2 separate regions of the Homo sapiens genome follow, and region 1 is linked to region 2. Evidence: fine-mapped expression QTL. A gene starts in region 2. The other region holds a variant in brackets. All regions are shown on one strand. Distances are from middle to middle.

Region 1 (2,902 bases), 28 kb after region 2:
GGAAACCCACCAATGCCCACTCCCCCAGCCCTGGCATGGGACCAACTCCCTGCTGTGGCTGGGCCCTGGGAGCCGCTTGGTCCCTGGTCAATTATCTCTCCCCAGCCTTGGCTCAGCCCACTGCCCCCTTCAGCTCCCTGACATGTTCCCAGCAGCAGGGGTTCAGCCCCAGGCCTCTGCTCTGACCCCACAGCTGCCCCTGACTCTAAGCCAGTCCATTTTGCATGGGTAGAATCTGAGACCAGGAACATCTGAGCTCTCAGAGCCCAGCCCTGGCCGCTAAGCCCCATTGCTTCAGCTCGGCGATGTGGGGCAAAAGCCTGGGGATCTGATGCTCCTGTAGCCGAACTACGGGGAGTGAGGCCTGGCAAAGGCCAGGGCCGTTTGTGTGCTGGATGTGCATGTAAGTCTGTTCTTTGTGTGTGTGTGTGTGTGCGTGGCACTACTATCTCTCCAGGTGTGTGTTCAGGGGAACGCGTGTGCATCCTCATGGCTGGCCAGAGTTGACAGGCACTATATCAAACAATGGGCATGGAAAAGTCAACACAGACCCCCCCCTGCCCCTGACATTAACTGGAGTGGGCGGGGGGCCAGGGCATCAGTGGGGCCGGGGCATTCAGGAGGCTAGGGGTCCTGCACCGCTGGTGGAGGAAGCCCTTCGGTGCCACACAGCTGTTCCCCGTGCCGTGCATGACTGAGGAGACACCAGGTCAGAAGCTCTGTTTCTTTCTCCACATCTGTTTAGGAGGAAGTAGGTGTGCCTGAGGGTCTGCTTTTCCGTGGCTGGATCTTTCCAAAGGTGTGCAGGGTTTCTTTGAGCGCCCCATGCATGGGGTGACAAGGGGGCATGAGAGTTTGTGCTGTGGTCAGCTGAGGGCCACCCAGTGCAGAGGTCCCTGCCAGGGCCTCCACCCTTGGAGTACAGCATTAGCCGGCCCAGTGCAGCCACAGTGAGTGCAGAAGCTCCTGGCTCCTTCCCTTGCTGCTCTCCCATGTGGAGGACTTGGCTAAACTCCTGCTGCACTGAGGCCAGTTTCTCCACCACTCCTCCAACTAGGCCTAACCCCGGTGGCCTGGGCCCTGCCCAGGGAAGGTTCTGTGTGCCCTTGCCTGGATGCTGCCTGGCTGTGGGAACAATTATCAGGCTTTAGCATCCCCCTTCTCTGCCTCAGTTTCCTCAGCTTTAAAGTGGCGCGTGCTGGGAGGATAACATGAACGTCTGCATGCAAAACTGGGGGACAGAAAGCCAGGCAGCATGCACACAGCCAGTGGGGGTGGTGGCATCAGGGCAGGGACTTACCCTCGGACTGGGATGGACCTCGTTGGCACCAACCTCTTCTGCAGGGGCAGCTGCACCGTGTTCGAGTCGTTTGTGACCTCCCA[G/C]GGCTGCAGGGGCTCAGGGTCGGGCTCTGTCAGCCACGACAACCTGCAACAGCACTTGGAATGTCAACATGGCCACCATCCACCAGCCTCCTGAAGTAACTCTCACTCATCTGGAACTTTCCATCTGCTAGGCACTGTTCTAAGTGCTTCACAAATATTAGCCCATATGTCAGCTGACAAGCATGCTGTGAGGCAGGTGTTACCCACACTTTACAGACAAGGAAACTGAGGCACAGAGGTTCCACAGCCAGGAGGTGGGAACTAAGCTGCAGCCTGCTCCAGAGCCTTGTCATGGCCACAGCAGCCAAACGGTGCAGAGCACTTGAGCCCCTGGGTGCTGGCCTCCCCTGGTTTCAACCTGAGGCCACTCTGTGTGGTGTGTACCTGCCACCTGGGCCTCATGTGATGGTGTCTGCGGTGGGGGACAGAATGGGGTGCAAGGTTATGGCTACAGTTTCCTGGGGCAAGGACAAGAACAGGTGCTCAGCTGGCCCGGCACAGGGACACAGCATGGAGCTCATCGTCCCCACCTCCCTCGAGCGTGGCTGCCCTGGTGGTCCCCCGTGGTCCCTGTGGGTAGCCCTGCCAAGCATCCAGGGCCACTGCTGGGCGCACAACACTTGCTTCTGGGGTGGGGGGTGAGCATGGAGTGGGAAGCTTGAGGTTGCACGGTGCCAAGCTGAGCCCCAGTGCCAGGTGCTGCCTGCTGTCCTGCGGGTGGGAGGCCAGCTGCCCTGCGCCCCAGGCATTGCTGGCAAGATTTCCCTTGCATTTGTTTTGCCTCTTTGGCCCGTGGCTCTGTCCTTATGTGAAGTGCCCTGTGGAGACTTGGCCCAGGCCCCCTCGGGCTGCCCGTTATCCTGGCTAGTTGCGAGTCCCAGGAGCTCACAAACAATGGGTGCCCAGCACACCAATTCCAACACAGCTCAGGAGGGGCAGTCGTCTGTGGCCATGCTCCTCGCGTGACTTGGGGAAGCAGCTGGCCTGGGCTCTGGGATGACCCAGGGAGGCCTGAGCCCACCCAGAGGCCCCTCGGCTTAGGCTGTGATGGGGGTAACGAAGGCGGACCCCAGACTGTCAGCTGGGCAAGGGCTGCTAAGGGTCTCCCTGTGGACAAAACCCCCTCCCAGCTGCAGCCCCACAGAATGCATTTGAGTTCCCAGGATGCTGGGGTGACCTGGGGGAGGCAGGGCTTGTCTCCAGAGGTGTCAGCCTCCCGCACCTGTACGGAAACTTCTTGGCAAAATTCTCCTGGGCCTGGATCCTCCACTTCTTACTCTGGTGAGACTTCTTGCAGGCACTGGAGTCCATCACTGAGTGGGTTAAGCTGAGGCACACCTCTCAGCCATGGCTGGAAGACAAGAGGAGGCGTCAGAGGGGGCAGGGGTGGTGGGGGGCAGAAGGCAGAGTGATGAGTACCCAGCAGGGCTGGGGGTGCCTGCGGGCCGCCAAATGACCTGCATCACTGCCCTGTGCATGCACCGCTGTGTTCAATTTTCTCCTGCGTGTAGCTTCCTGT
Region 2 (2,902 bases):
CACCAGGTGGCAGCATATAAGGGCAAAGCGCGCTGAGGATTCCAGGCTGGCAGTGAGGCCAGGGAATGCCGGTCTGGGGAAATTTGGAAGGCACCTTTGGATGCGAGTTAGGTCCGGCAGGGAATGCAGATGACCTGGAATCCCTGGGTCCTGGGCCAGTCTGGGGGTGGGCTAGAGGTTCCCCAAGGCCAGAAAAGTCATGATAAGAAGCTTCTAGCTTACTGTGAGTCTGGACTCCCACCCCTGTCCTTTGAGAACATCATCACCATTTAAAGCTGTATCTCAAAACCAGCAGAACTATTATTTGCTTAATATTCTTCCTTAAATAGATCTTCCACAACTTAAATAAATATAGTAGGGAGAAATTTTTATTTCACCACTTTAACAGAAACCAGCCACTTGCCAGAAACAGGCAGTAACCATAAACAAATTAATTACTAATATCAAATACTTACCTGGCACTCACTGAGTGCCAGACACTGTTGCAAACATTTCCTGTATCTCATTTAATCTTCACAGCACTGAGGTTTAGGATTATCCCCCCGTACAGGAAAATGGGAAACAGAGAGGTGCAGTTAATTTCCTAATCTCCCACAGCAGTAAGCGGCACCAGGTGGGTTTGGAGTCACCACATTTTTCAAGAACAGTTTAACAACTGGAGCTTCGAGTGTGGAATAATAGACACTGGAGACTTGGAAGGGTAGGAGAGTGAGCGAGGTGGGAGGGATGAGGAATTACTTAATGGGTACAATGGACATTATTTAGGTGATGGTTACACGGAAAGCCCAGACCTCACCACTGCATATCTCCATGTAACAAACCTGCACTTGTGTCCCTTACATTTATACAAAAAACTCCAAAAAAAACCTACAGTGTAATGTAGTACCCTATCCCATGCACTCACACTGCTAAATGTTGTTTCCAACGCACTCATCCGCGCACCCAGTGCCAGCTGCACCCTCCCGTTCCCTGCTAGCCTGACTTCTGGGCAGCAAGACCCTGCGGTTAGACGTGGGCTCCTGCCCACAGGGCTAGCTGGATGTGTGTGTCTTTCAAAGGCTGGACTTTACTCTCACCTCGCCCCCTCCACCCCCCAACACACACACACACACACACACACACACACACACACACAGTCCCTGGCAAGTCCTCAGAGCTCACGTGGTGCCCAGAGAAGTTGTGGGTGACACGATGAGGCACAAGCTCCATTCCCCGGGGGATGTAAGCTGAGACCCTACCTCTCTGTGCAAAGGCTAGTGCCACCTGCATGAGCTAGATTCAGGCAGGACCTGGAGACCCTGGAGGAAAGCAAGGCTGCAGGGTAGCCTTGGGTCGGGGAGGGAGGGACACTCTTAGGCCTCTTACTGAGGGCGGGGGTCCCGGAGAGCCATGGACAGGGCAACGCTCTACTAGGCTCCTTGGTTCATCCCAGATCAGCCCTTGGGCCCCTGGCATCTAAGGCAGCAAAAAGGCAAGGGGACACCGCCCGGGGTGGGGCACGCCACCGCGACAATGCCTCTTGGCCTTGGGTGGATAATGGCACCCCTGGGCAAACCCTAGGGGCGGGGCCCAGAGGCGAGGGGCTTCCCCAATCAGTCTCCGCCCTAGCGCCCTGGACTTCGGCCCCATTCCATTGGGTGAGGGTGGGGGCACGAAAAGAGGAGCGGGCTTGCGGCCCCACCGTGTCCCGCCTCCTCAGTCCCCAGCGACTCGCAGGGGCTGGTGGGGCTGGGGTCCAGCTGCCGTGCTCCCCTGCCCTGCGCCGCGCCGCGCGTCTTGGTAGGCGCTGCGCTGCCGGGGCCGGGTCCTGGGCCAGTGCAACTCCGCCCCCAGCCGTATCCAGCGGACTGTCCTCCGCCGCGCGCCCGGCACAGCATGGGGAGGCGCTGCTGCCGGCGGCGCGTGCTGGCGGCCGCCTGTCTGGGCGCCGCGCTCCTGCTCCTATGCGCCGCGCCCCGCTCCCTGCGCCCGGGTGAGTGCCCGCCGGCCGAGCCGCGCACCCCCAACCAAACCTGGCTCCTCGCGCTTTCCACCGCGGCCTGACCCCTCGACAGCGCGGGGGACACCTGTTGTCTCCTTCCTGGCTGGGGCTAGGGGTGGCGGGCAGGGGCGCTGGTGAGGCACAGAAAGGCTCTAGACGCCCCCGCGAGCAAAGGCTCTTGCTCCTCCTCCGGAGTTACCTCCCCACTCCCAGAGCGGTGACTGTTTTGAGTCCCACAGCCGGTGCCTGGAGACCGGGGTCAGTTGTGGGGGGTAGAGGACAATTGGCCAATCCGGGAAGGCCATCTCCCTTACCTTCACCCCCTTCCCCTGCGCACCCCACGGCCCCTGGACATGAGCGCTGCTGGGCGCATGCGCATAGGAGGGGAAGCTTGGGCCACTCGGTCCGGTCCCTTGGTTGTCCTACTGTGCAGTGGGTGCCACTCCCTGCTCCACCCTGAAATCCACACTGGGTAGGGCTTGGGACTCCTGTGCACCCACTCGTGGTCTGGCTGGGGAAACTGAGGCAGTTAGTCATGACTCCGCAGAGCTGAGTGCCCTGGGCTCCACCGGTGCTGAGTCTTTGCTCTGAGTCTCTCCTCAGCTCATGTGAAGCCTCCCATCAACCCATTTCACACAATCTGAAGCGGGCCAGAGAGTGGGGAGACAGGTGTGGTGGCAACGTGCTGGCTATACAATCTACTTGGGACTGGAGGGGCCCAGCCAGCGCCCGGGTCTCCTGACCTCAGGGCTGTTTGCCTTTCCTTGTATGTGGTATGCGTGCTGGGTGGGACGACTCAGTCCGCCTCCCCACCCCCAGTGTGGGCTCTGAGAATCCTGGGCCCCACCCTTGGAACCTGGCAGACACAGTCCCAGGGAGTAAGTAACTAGGTCCAGGGTGGGCGGGGATGTTGGGCAGTGG

What was found.
Region 1: its variant is fine-mapped to the expression of CHST13 in whole blood (TOPMed, PIP above 0.99).

What each region holds. Positions count from the first base shown.
Region 1 is chr3:126,550,697-126,553,598 of GRCh38, forward strand. It overlaps C3orf22 (chromosome 3 open reading frame 22), which reads right to left. Exons shown (of 4, transcript NM_152533.3): 2 at 2,606-2,734; 3 at 1,301-1,426. The coding sequence starts at 2,694. Among named protein-coding and RNA genes, the nearest start is that of C3orf22, 6.8 kb to the right of the region's middle. RefSeq lists an enhancer at 1-140. The variant G/C (reference allele first, on the strand shown) is at 1,384.
Region 2 is chr3:126,522,458-126,525,359 of GRCh38, forward strand. It overlaps CHST13 (carbohydrate sulfotransferase 13), which reads left to right and starts at 1,698. Exons shown (of 3, transcript NM_152889.3): 1 at 1,698-1,972. The coding sequence starts at 1,876. RefSeq lists enhancers at 1,022-1,522, 1,523-2,023, 2,084-2,584, 2,585-2,902.